Regions from separate parts of the Homo sapiens genome. Here regions 2, 3 and 4 are each reported to be linked to region 1. Evidence: microRNA targets listed by miRTarBase, many of them from high-throughput screens and not tested one by one. Region 1 holds a microRNA gene; each other region holds the end of a gene's coding sequence.

Region 1 (3,184 bases):
AGCTTAGGCAGCTGTGGCAGCAGGGGCAATGCTGCACCTGGTGCCATTGTCCTTACTTTGTATGTCCCTCAAGGGCTGGACATATTCCAGTCCTCGGAGGGCCTTATCTCCTAGGGATTTTCTTTCTTTGGGACACAGGTGTAACTTACTAAAAGTGTGACTCTTATAAGTCACTCCCCTCCCATCGTACCTTGTCTATAGAATGAGGACAGTAATACCCATCTCCTAGCTCATCAACTTGACCTCACAGTTGTGAAGATCAAGTGAGGTGCTGCTAATCAAAATGCCTGGGAAGGTTAGAGGTCATATAACCACCTCGGGAGCCTTGTGTGTAAATCGCTCAGCAGCTCTTGCTGGAGTTCAAGGAGATGACAGTTCACTCTTCTTTCCCCATCTGCCTCAGCTGCCCCACGGATGAAACCGTCCTCGTGCATGAGAATGGGAGAGATCACAGGGCAACCTTCCAATTCAATGCTTTCCGGTTCCAGAACATCCCCAAACTCTCCAAGGTGTGGTTACACTGTGAGACGTTCATCTGCGACAGTGAGAAACTCTCCTGCCCAGTGGTGAGCTGCCTCTCTCCAGAAGGACAATGTTACCTAAAGGGTGCCAGTATTGGAGGAGCTGGAGTTTGAGTGGGGAGATCATAACCAGGCCAGGGCAGCTGTGTGCTGAGGACATCTGGAGGAAATGGCACTGAGTATAAGGGCAGATGCTCGTGAGGGCAGATGCTCAGGGCCCTATCTGCCCTGCCTCCAACAACCCACATGGTCTGGCATGTGTCGCCTAACCTGCTGGGACCTGCTTTCTCATCCTTAAGCAAAGTGTGTTAAGTAATGATGGCCCTTCCCTCATCAGAGGGCAGTGTAGGTAAATGAAAGTGATAACAGACTTGGAAATACTTGGAAGAAGTGAAAAGGGCAAGGGAAATTCAAGGTCTAGGTGGCAGGGACAGGCCGTGGAAATAACTCAAAAGGTGGGTGTTTTTAGTCTTGACTGAACAGCCCGAGGGTTCACCTCTGTGACTTCAGAGAGATGCTGCAGAAATTCCCGACACTGGATCATGGCTGATTTGACCACGTGAGAGGAAGGCCTGGGCAGGCTGTGCTTTAACAAGCCAGCAGTCATGCCGGTGCTCACTCAAGCCTGAGAACCACCACTTAGACACTTAGACATGCCAAATCTCAAACTGTTCTCCTTTCTGGTCTCTTTCAACTGGAGACCTCGGTGTTTCCAAAGAGGCTGCTATCCACATAGCCTATAGTAACCAACAAAAATAAGGTCATAATCTCTATTGCTGTTGTTTCATTTGGCCAGAAAATGGTTCTTTATGAGCACAAACAGCAAAAGGGAAAGAAACCAGAGAGTGCAGAGCCAGGGAGAGGAGGGGAGAGACACTGTACAGTTGATCAAAGGATAAGTATCAATGCCATATTTTTAAAAAGAAAGAAAAGAAAATGAACCAGAATACAATTGCAAGTGTCCACTTCTCTAATTATTGTGGTGAGAGTGGTAAGTAGAAGCCTTATCAAAGGAAATGGGATCAATCCCTTCCACACTCAATGACCTCTTCCAGAAGGATTCCCTCTGGCTTGAAGAGTTAACAAAGTAAAGCTTTCTCTTTGTATTCAAGTTGGAGAAGGGATGAACAGTGTGTCTTCTGGGTTATTTTTTAAAAAGGTAACTCATCTCTGTTGACTGGGGAATTGTGACTCCACCCCATTTGTGACCTTTTTAAAATATCTTTTCTTTCTCTTTTCTCCCCTTTGCTCACGCATCATCCCACCTTCCCCGCTTCTCTCCTGTCTGCCTCTCTGGGTCTTCAGACCTGCGATAAACGGAAGCGCCTCCTGCGAGACCAGACCGGGGGAGTCCTGGTCGTGGAGCTCTCCCTGCGGAGTAAGCGTCTCTGTTTTCCTCTGTTTTCCAAACGGTTGAGTTCACGCTGGGCTGCGTCCACAGGCACAGCCGGTTTGAGCATTTTTACTGAATTGCCAAACCAGTCGTGCCTGTGGGCACAACCTTCACCTGCTCCTGGAGTCTTCCAGCCAGGGGTGGGGAACAGCTCAAGCCAAACGAAGGAGTTGAGGTTTGTTATCTACTCTGAAAGTTCTAACTGCACCCTAAATTCAAATACCCCCAAAGAATCAGGAAGTGCTGAGCTTCCAAACAGAGCATGCAGTGAACAATAATAATAGAAAATGAGATGTCATGGGGCCGGGCTCGGTGGCTCACGCCTGTAATCCCAGCACTTTGGGAGGCCGAGGTGGGCAGATCACTTGAGGTCAGGAGTTTGAGACCAGCCTGACCAACATGGTGAAACCCCACCTCTACTAAAAATACAAAATTACCTGGGCTTGGTGGGGCACGCCTGTAATCCCAACTACTCGGGAGGCTAAGGCAGGAGAATCACTTGAATCTGGGAGGCAGAGGTTGCAGTGAGCTGAGATCGCGCCATTGTACTCCAGCCTGGGCAACAAGAGCGAAACTCCGTCTCAAAAAAAAAAAAAAGAAAGAAAGAAAAAGAAGAAAGAAAGAGAGACAGACAGACAGACAGAAAGAAATAAAGAAAGAAAGAAAGAAAGAAAGAAAGAAAGAAAGAAAGAAAGAAAGAAAAGAAAGAAAGAAAGAAAGAAAGAAAGAAAGAAAGAAAGAGAAAGAAAAAAGAAAAGAAAAGAAAGAAGGAAGGAAGGAAGGAAGGAAAAATGAGATGTCATGAGAATGTCATGTGCAAGTCAAAAAACCTTTACTGAGTATCCAGCACTGCCTGGCCTGGCAGGGCACTAGGATTTCAGAAATAAATGTGACCCAAGCAGGCCCTGTCCTCAAGGGATTTACTGTCTAGCAAGGAGAGAGATGTTAGACACTAAGGGAAAGAGAAATTACTGTTAAGGAGGGTGACAGTGGGCTGGTGCCATGGTTGCACAGTTGATCATCACTAATGTGAAAATCCAAAATCCGAATGCTCCCAAATCTGAAACTTTTTGAGCACCCACATGATGCTCAAAGGTCATGCTCACAGGAAATGCTCATTGTAGCATTTTAGATTTCAGATTCCAGGTTTTCCAGTTAGGGATGCTCAACTAGTATAATGCAAAGATTCCAAAATCCAAAAAAAAATCTGAAATCTGAAACACTTCTGGTCCCAAGCATTTTGGATAAGGGATATTCATCCTGAATGGAG
Region 2 (3,157 bases), not on the chromosome of region 1:
TTGACCAAATCATGAAAACAACTGTTCACTGTAGATTTTTCAGTGGTTCTCTTTTATGTGTTATAATCAAGATACCTTTTATTAAAAAAATAACAATACATTCTTTGTTTTACATGGAGCATATTAGGGATTACTGAAACAATCTGAATACATTGATGTATATATATAGTATTTTTTTATTTTATTATTTCTTTATAGGCTCTCAAAATTAGAGAGATGTGTAATTGTCCACCACTGTCTAATCCAGACCCTCGATTACTATTCAAACTCAGCACGAAGCATTTTCTTGAAGAATCAGAGAAAGAAGACCTAAATATCACGAAGAAACAGAAAATGGATACTCTTCCTATTCAAAAACAGGAGCAAATACCATTAACATACATAGTTGAGAAAAGAACGGGCAGTTGAATTAAAATTTATGAGACACAAGATATATGAAGAATGTTGCAGTCCTTATCATTTTATGTTACTTTTTAAAAAATGATGTTTGAAGTGAAAAAAAAAAGGATATTCAGGGTCAAATCATGTACATTACAGATATTATCTAAATTCTTCTAGAATTTATTTTTCATGAAATATTGATGTATTTTAATCTATGTTAAAATATCTTCAATGAGGAAAATGTCACAGAATAAATTTATATTACACATTTTACTCTGTCTTCTACTTGCTTTTGATTTAGAAGGCAGACCCCTAGTGGATGAGAAATGAGCCCATACGGTAGTTTTTATAGTAGAGAATGTTTCAACTGAGCCTAAACTGGATTTCTAAGTCTGGGTCGTTATGATGAAGGGGGAAACAGTCTGAAGGTATCTGTTTGCAGGAAATAGTTTGCATTGGGGTGGGATTATGTGGAAAAGGGGGCCTCAGGATAGAGAATTTCCTTGTCTTCACCTGTGGATGACTGGAGAAAATGCTACTGGCAGAAGCCATTTTCATAGGGAGGCAAAAGAAGTACAGTTTGTGGTTCAGATGACAAAGCAAGAAACAGAATTGGGGGAGAGGGCATTTCCACAGAGATACAGCGTGTTCCTGGTGCACTGAAATCTTAACAGAAGTTTATGTCATTTGGTTGCTCCATGAGATTACCATTTGGGAATCTCGGGTTCCCAGAGAAGAAAAAGAGGCAAAGGCAAGGCACTGTCCCTCAAAAGAGGCTGAGGCAAGGCACTGTCCCCAAGTTGACCTTCCTGAGCAGCAGATATCAACAAGACGACTGGAGGAAAACGACAAGAGAAGCAGCACAAGACATACCCCCAGTGGTGCCCAGAAATTGCTGCATTATATAAATGTGGAAATACGAGTTATTTAATATTTGTATTCCCAAACTAGTGAAGTCTAGTGATGCTTAGGTTATATTTCTAAGAAGGGCATTTTTCTTGAAATACATTATATTAAATAAATATTTTCTTAGAGAATTAAAGAGGAAAGGGACTACTTTGTATTGTGAATCTACTATGAACTGGGCCCTATATTTATCTTTATTCCATAACCCTACTAGGTTTTATTATTCTCACTTTACAATGACAAATAGGCTTCGAGAAGTTACATAATATATCCAATATCTCTCACCTAGATAGAACAAAGCTGAGTCTATCTGACTACAAATCTGTCCATTTTTTTACAACTCTCAGATATCTAAGACTAAGCTATCAAGACAAGGAACAAAGTATTCTCAGTTGTTCATTAGCTTCCCCACATATGGCTTCAATATAAGTAAAAATCTCATCATTATGAAATCAGGGACCACTTGTGTTTTCTGTAGGTTGATTTTATAGGTTCTTCTCTCAGACCCTTCTATCAAAATTGACATGAAAAGCATAGATGAGGCAGTGTAGGAGAGTAGAACCTCTCCCCCTGCCTGTGAAAGCCTGTGAAATCTCATTTGGGATGTGTCCTGACATTATTAAATCTTCTTGGACAAAATATCTAGTTGTTAAGAAGATAAGTTCAGAGGCTGTTTATGTTTCTCAGGGATTATTATACATTACTTGTAAGGAATTTCCTGATCTGCACACGAGACAACATTGGTCATGAAGAGGTTCATATTAACTATTCTCCATATAATCATTTTTTACACTCCTTGTGATTGGAGTATTGTAAAAGGCACTCCATAACATATAAAGACACTTGGAGAATGTCACCTAAAGGTAAACAGTAAAACACAGCATTAGATTTTCCTGCAGATTTCCTAGGAAAATAATGTAGCAACGGCCTACTTTTTCTTCCATTCCCATTGTCACTTCTAATTGTGTTGTTCATACTTGCTAGAAACATATATAAGTTGACACCATGTCAGAAAGAGCAGAGATAATATCTTTATAGTATATGAAAAAGATTTTTTTTAACCAGTGGAATTAAATGTAAAAGAAATGTTACAGTTCAGCTCAATGCTTTAGAAGAAATTAAATAGCAGTTGAAATACAAGATGTATATATATACTTTAAATTTTATATGGAAATAAGCTGTATGTTCTACACTTAGTTGCAGAACTACTTTGTTCCTGTCAATACTTTTCATGTGCCTATAGGATTTAGATGATAGGCTGGTTAACTTAGTTGTTAGGAGCATGATGCTAATAAATCCAAGGCACAAACTCAACCCGATCTTTTCTATAATTCAGATAGGGTGAGACTATCCTCTAAAACTAAAGGACAGTGTGTATATTTACTGCTATATACTTATAATGCTTTGCACATTATAGGCATTCAATTAACATTGACACTGTACAATAATTATCTGTTCAAAGGATTGAAAAAAAGGAGAAACAATCATACTCTGTAAAATCTGCTTCTGTAGTTGTGGAACCCTGGACAAGTCATGCAAACTCTCTAACCCTCATTTCTTAATTGTAAAATGGGGACAAAAAAAATCCTCCTAGGTTGACCAATGACCAAGTGAAATGATATACTTAAAGCATTTAACACAAAGTCTAGAGCTGCAAATGTAATAAAAATTGTTACCATATACTGAATGCATACTTTGTACTATTAGTCCATTTTCACACTGCTATAAAGACATACCCGAGACTAGGTAATTTATAAAGAAAAGGGATTTAATTGACTCACAGTTCTACATGGCTGGGGAGGCTTCAGGAATCTCACAATCATGGCGGAAGGGTAAGAGGCATGTCTCACGTGGTGGCAGGCAAGAGAGA
Region 3 (3,184 bases), not on the chromosome of region 1:
GGTAATCTTTATGAAGAGAAAGTACATGTGGATTTTAACAGCTACGTCCAGTCTCCTGCATACCATTCACCTCAAGAAGACCCCTTTCTCTTCACCTACGCCTCTCATCCTCATCAGCAATATTCACTGCCAAGCAAGAGCAGCAAATGGGATTTTGAGGAAGAAATGACATACTTGGGTTTGGATCACTGCAACAATGATATGCTTCTGAACCTGTGTCCTTTGAGATGACCCAAATCTTTCACTATGTGCACCCCAGCCCCTCAAAAATGGGGAAGGGCTGAAAGAATTTCCTTAGGAAATAATTTTTAAAACATAACCACAGATAAATGAGAATCATGATAAGCAGTAGACAAGGCTTTTTTCTTTTTCTTTTTTCCTTCTTTTTTTTTTTTTTTTTTTTTTTTTGAGACAGAGTCTTGCTCTTTTGCCCAGGCAGGAATGCAGTGGCGCCATCTCGGCTCACTGCAACCTCTGCCTCCCGGGTTTGAGTGATTCTCCTGCGTCAGCCTCCCGAGTAGCTGGGATTACAGGCACCTGCCACTGCGCCTGGCTAATTTTTCTATTTTTAGTAGAGACAGGGTTTTGCCATGTTGGTCAGGCTGCTCTCAAACTCCTGATCTCAAGTGATCTGCCCACCTCACCATCCCAAAGTGCTGGGATTACAGGCGTGAGCCATTGTGCCCGGCTGACAAGGCTTTTTTCTTCACATGAGTAATTTTTTTGGCTTCTTCTCCTCCACTCTAGTATTTCCACCCTCAGTAAGGAATGGAAACCTGTCCCGTCTGGGGTGTGAAGTGCCCTCTGCTTTTTCCCCCACATTGTTTGGGGTTCCCAGCACCTCAGCCACATTGCATGCTGGGTTTTCATTGTCATTGTTGCAAATGAAATGGAGTAGACATGTGAAATGCTAACCTATCTAGGACCTGATCTATGCCTTCTTGGGAACTGAGAATGAAGAAACAGAAATAGATGGTGGAAGAACTGCCTAAGGTGTGAAAAGCTGAAGATTCTACCACTGAAGTACTGAATATGTTGTCTAGTTGTGAGACTAGTGTGTAAAATATATGTTTTCTAGATGATTTCTGAGACTTGTGATGACAAGGAACCTGACCTAACCCCATTTTTCATAAAGACAAAGAACAGCAATGTTAAATTGCCATATGAAGAGAAACACTAGTGATGTGCGTGGTCTCCTTGCCTCTTGTTTCCTTCCCTCTTCCTCACTGACTTCCCCTTGCACAGGGGCTTCTGTTTTATCCCATTTATTATTTGTGGCACCTATATCAATGTGGGGTTTGTAATAGGTGAGAAATATTTGCTTGGAGAAGCTCTTGTGCAATTAGCCTGGCAATGATTGGCCGGCCATGTTTGAATGCCAGTTTCTCTTCTTTGCTGAAGTACTTTATGATAAAAGTAAGCCTAGACATAAAATCTGGAGAGAACCATGCAATAAACAAGTATTTTTGAAATAAATTATTCCTTCTCCTTTATTAGAATAGTAACAGATGCACATGATACAAAATTCAAAAGTGAAAAAAAAGAAGTCTCCTAGTTCTAGTCTCCCCTCTGCAACACTGACTAGTTTCTTGTCTATTATTCCAGATATTAGAAATGTTCTCTGCATATATATAATTATATGTAATGTGTATGAAATACATTACATAAAATACACACATATCTTTTATATATAAAATATATTTATATATATATATAAGAGAGAGATGACATAAGTGGTATCATATCAGATTCATTTCTAACATAGTTTTTGTCGTTTTAGGAGCCAATTTGAGCATTAAGTTCTTATAAGCATATAGGATCACAGCTGCTTCATTTTTAATGATGCATTATGCATTACATGACTATTATAATTAAATAGTCCCTATTGATAAACATTTAGATTTGTTCAAATCTTCTAAATTCATTTGTCTAAGTGACAAGACTATATATAAAACTTATATATTGGCCAGGCATGGTGGCTCACACGTGTAACCCCAGCACTTTTGGAGGCAAAGGCGGGTGGATCACTTGAGCCCAGGAGTTCAAGACCAGCCTGGGCAACATAGCGGGACCCCGTCTCTACCAAAAATTAAAAATTAGCTGGATGTCATCATGCATACCTGTAGTCTCAGCTACTTGGACCTGTAGTCTCAGCTACTTTGGAGGCAGGAGGATCACTTGAGTCAGGGAGGTCGATGCTTATCAAATCAGTGAGCCATGATTGTGCCACTGCATTCCAGCCTGGATGACAGAGTCTCAATCAATCAATCAATAAAAACCTTATATATTCAGTTTAGCAGAATTGTAAAGTGAATACTTGTGTAAACACTATCTGGACCAAGAAATAGGATCTACTGGCACTGCAGAAGTTCCCCTTACTGTGGATTTCAATCCCATCCACAACCCTCTCCCTGTATCCCAAAGGTGATCACTAGACTGGCTCTTTACATTTTTACTACCTTTGTATGTATCCCTAAACTATAGTTTCGTGTGGTCTTTTTGGGGAGCCTAACAAATAGAATCATATGGTATACTTTAAAGAATTAATTGAAGTGTAATGTACATATAGAAGAATCCACAGCTCATAGCATAGAGCTCAATTGTCATAAGAACACACCAGTCTAGCTATCATCTAGTTAGTGTACATTTTTTTATGATCTTGCCTTTTCTGCTCAACATTGTATCCATAAGAGGGTAGCTGTAATTTGTTATTTTCATTGCTGTAATACATTTCTTTATTCTCACTCTAAATGAAATGAAAGAGCTAAATAAACAGTAACTGTCTGAAGGAAACTTTAGCTCCTGTTGGTCCAAAGCTTTCTGGGTATTGCAAACATTTTACCTCCACCAGACTAGGCATCCTGTTATTCCAAACCTTTTCTCACTTTCAAAAACTATAATCTTAGCCAGGCATGATGGCTCATGCCTCTAATTCCAGCACCTTGGGAGGCCGAGGTGTGAGGATCGCTTGAGCCTAGGAGTTTGAGACCAGCCTGGGTAACATAGCAAGACTCTAAAAAATATTTTAAAAATTAGCTGGGTGTGGTGGTGTGCACCTGTAGTCCCAGCTACTCGGGAGGCTGAAGCAAGAGGATTGCTATAGCCCAAGAGGTTGAGGCTGCAGTGAGCCATGATTGTGCCACTGCACTCCAGTCTGCGTGACAGAGCCAGATCCTGTCTCAAA
Region 4 (3,184 bases), not on the chromosome of region 1:
ATCTGAAATGGTCTTGAAGAATAAGTTTCTTTGAAATGGTAAGTAACACAAAAAGTGTACTTCTTTTTTTGGAAAATGATTCACAAATAACCCCTTTAAACCAACAATTGGTGATTTATATTCTGGTCAGGATTTTGGAGTCTGGGCAATGCCATTACTTAGCTGTTTTGACTATGAGAACTTTTACAAATTTATTCTGACTTCTATGATCTTTAATCTCTTTTCTACACCTGAAAAATAATAAAGATTGTAAACTAGATGTCCTCAAAGATTCTTCCCTCCCCAGTGATACATGACTATACTTGGGACTCTCTAAATGCCCTGCTGTCAACAGAGCTATCCTGAAGCTTACTGAACACAAGGTGGTGCTTTCATATGAGCTTCTTTCTAGTTCTTTTGTTAATTAAGAACAAGTTTTTGTTTTTTGTCCCCAGTTTAGCCAAATGCTCCTGAAATAGAAATGCATTAGTAAATAAGAGCTTCATTTTTAATAGGTTTTCCCCTTTCTTTAGGAGTGATAGAAGTTTCATAATGTGTATTTCGTTTTCCTAATAATTTCAAAAAGGCAAATTTCACTAGGGCCATGAAAGTATTCTTGGATTTATCCAGACTATGTAGAAACCACCATCACAGCTGGCTAAAAAGCAAAAGCTTGGTTAAATTGACTTGGCGTGGTTCCCAGGGTTTCCCAGGCATTAAGCAATATCTGAAAGTTAAAAGTCTGTCACCTTCAGAAGCTGCAATAACTCTTTGATTCACTGTAGTCCAATTTAACACATTGTTATGTAATAATATATATATGTGAGTAATATGAGAAAGCTGATTTTTCTTCAACGGCAGCACATTCATAACTTAGGATATAACATCTCTGGGATGTTGTCAATTTTAAAGTCTCTCCTTCCTAGTTGGTTGGTTACATAACCATGGGAGTACTGTTCTTTATCTGTTAAAAAATTCTTTCAGGTGTCATTACTGTTGTGTATAGATGTGGTCACTTTTGTTTAGATATCTTAACACTGAGGAGTTGGATGAGAACGTTTTTAAGGAACTATTTTCCCCTAAGGCAAGCAGAGCATATTTTATAAGGACCACCACTTACACTACCTTAGTCATAGCCATCTATACTCCACAGGAATGTTGCTGTTGAATGCCCACCATATGAAAGGCAGTGTCAGCATGCAGCGGGCAGTGTAGAGGTAAAGTGATTACACCTGTCCACACTTGTAGTCACAGCACTTTAGAATCATAGAATTCTACCAAAGACAACCTCTTATAATAGAAAGTATCTAACAATGTCAACTCATCTAAATCTATCACCACCAAATGTTAACAGATGGGAAAGGGAGATGATGGGAGGTAACAGATTTTCTTAAAGTCATATTGCTTTAGGTGATTGTAAATTCCACACTTTTCTGATTCCTGGACCAATATTCTCGTAACACCTCATGATTTATGTATAGAACCTGTGGAGAATGAAGCTACCTAAAAGTGCCCTTTGTGCACAGTCTCTGATAAAATATGTTATGATTTGCCTAAATTGTCTCTTACACTTGAAATTACTTTTAAAAAATCCATGAAAAATCAAAGTTAAAAGTAGCAGACCATTAATGTTATAAAACAACAGCTTTCCTAGTTTTCTTCTTACTAATAAAAGTCCTGATTGGTGTTTGTTAAGTTGCATCAGCTAGAGATTAAAATAATTATTAACTATTTTGCTAAGATTCAAACAGATGGAAAATGCTTGAAATATCTCAATTTTGTACTTAAAATAAATGCTTATAAAGTGATATATTTTAGGTTATTAAGGACAATTTGTTGAATACTTGTCGAGTTAGTGTTTGGCTTGTCCTATTCTTTTAAAACAAGTCTATTGTAGCTCTCTTAACTCTCCTAACAGCTGGCTCCCATTCAACGTCAAAAGTACAAATTTTAATAACTATTTCTAATGCCATAGTAACTTTAGAGAGATGGGGCATCCCTTTTTAATTATTAAAAAAGGGTCTGTTTTGGTGCCAAACTACAGAAGGTGCAGTTTTGAGGACAGATTAGAAATTGAATACACCAAGGTAGCTGCTTGGGAAAATGAACAGTATATAATCTAATCTCTTTAATTTTATGTACATGAATATAATGTATGTCAACTTTGTACATGAGATACATATAGTATTTAAACATTTTACTCAACAAACAAGAATTTACAATAGCAATATAACTGACTAGAGGGCTATCAACTTAATAATACTTAGATTAGATCTGTACTTTAATAGGAAAAGAATTTAATAGTTTACAATCATAGAAACACTGACATTTAAAACAAGAATTTATAAAATAATTTATATATATCCTAGCATCTACAGAGAGGAATGATTTGCATTTGTGGGTGTGTGCAATGAATGGCATATTTTAAATTTTTAGGTAATAAAATAATTTAGAAGCAGTTCATGCAGTGGTCAAAGCAAGGAATGGCAAGTTCCTTCAAGAAGCCCTCTATCTTTGACACCAACCGGCATCAGACACACACTAGGTACCATGGGGCACGCTAGAACAAGTCTCCTTCAAGAGTTACTTATATAAACATCAATATACACACGTTGATATCCTTCCTTCCATAGTACAAGTACAGGTCACAACTTCTCTCAACTGTGGGAGTAGTCAGTTTATACTTAAAGTGATTTAATGTCCCTCCTGGAGTTCTACATAATATATCTCTATAAGAAGGTAACTAACAGAACTTTCTAGTTTTCACAACCTTACTCTGATACTTTACAGAGTGCCCCCCATGTCCTATGACATAAACATCCAGCAGGTAAGATTTGCCAGGCTGAAGACCTTTAATTGTTTCTGTGGTCACTGCTTTCTGCAGGTTTTGACTGTGGAAATATTTACAGAGGACCTTTTCTGACTTCTTCCTTATATCTGGTCCTAGACATTGGTTTTGCTCTCTTTTCTTCTGGTCTTCATTGTAGTTATCATCCACTTCTTTTTTGTAGATGCAAAACTTGTTCCTTTCCTGAGTGCCTAGCCAAGCCACGGTGGCTGAGGAACAGGTACGGAGCTTGTCAAAGGCTTTGATTCTTGTGTCTTCAGGAAGAGAGGGAAATGACTGCTTAGTAGGCCTTGTGGTAGCTAGAATTTTCAACATAGATGCTCCTTTCTTGTTTCCTTTCAGTCGAACGAGGTATTT

What was found. The annotated mature microRNA hsa-miR-6715b-3p reads CUCAAACCGGCUGUGCCUGUGG and lies in region 1 at 1,957-1,978, opposite strand. An mRNA with a match to its seed (bases 2 to 7 or 8) in the 3' UTR can be bound and repressed. Matches are read on the target gene's strand: a 7mer-m8 pairs with bases 2 to 8, a 7mer-A1 pairs with bases 2 to 7 and ends in A, and an 8mer does both.
Region 2: the mRNA of OMA1 is a reported target of hsa-miR-6715b-3p. Seed matches in the 3' UTR shown: 7mer-A1 at 486-492.
Region 3: the mRNA of GCM1 is a reported target of hsa-miR-6715b-3p. Seed matches in the 3' UTR shown: 7mer-m8 at 485-491 and 7mer-A1 at 1,370-1,376.
Region 4: the mRNA of NDNF is a reported target of hsa-miR-6715b-3p. The part of its 3' UTR that is shown has no 7-base or 8-base seed match.

The regions. Positions count from the first base shown.
Region 1 is chr10:112,297,666-112,300,849 of GRCh38, forward strand. It overlaps MIR6715B (microRNA 6715b), which reads right to left and starts at 2,023; the gene lies at 1,947-2,023. It overlaps TECTB (tectorin beta), which reads left to right. Exons shown (of 11, transcript NM_058222.3): 8 at 404-566; 9 at 1,827-1,899. MIR6715A (microRNA 6715a) reads left to right here and starts at 1,947; the gene lies at 1,947-2,025.
Region 2 is chr1:58,478,216-58,481,372 of GRCh38, reverse strand. OMA1 (OMA1 zinc metallopeptidase) reads left to right here. Exons shown (of 9, transcript NM_145243.5): 9 at 199-654. The coding sequence ends at 408. It also overlaps a transcript of DAB1 not described here. Among named protein-coding and RNA genes, the nearest start is that of OMA1, 67 kb to the left of the region's middle.
Region 3 is chr6:53,125,253-53,128,436 of GRCh38, reverse strand. GCM1 (glial cells missing transcription factor 1) reads left to right here. Exons shown (of 6, transcript NM_003643.4): 6 at 1-1,476. The coding sequence ends at 231. Among named protein-coding and RNA genes, the nearest start is that of GCM1, 22 kb to the left of the region's middle.
Region 4 is chr4:121,033,542-121,036,725 of GRCh38, forward strand. NDNF (neuron derived neurotrophic factor) reads right to left here. Exons shown (of 4, transcript NM_024574.4): 4 at 2,072-3,184. The coding sequence ends at 2,723. Among named protein-coding and RNA genes, the nearest start is that of NDNF-AS1, 36 kb to the right of the region's middle.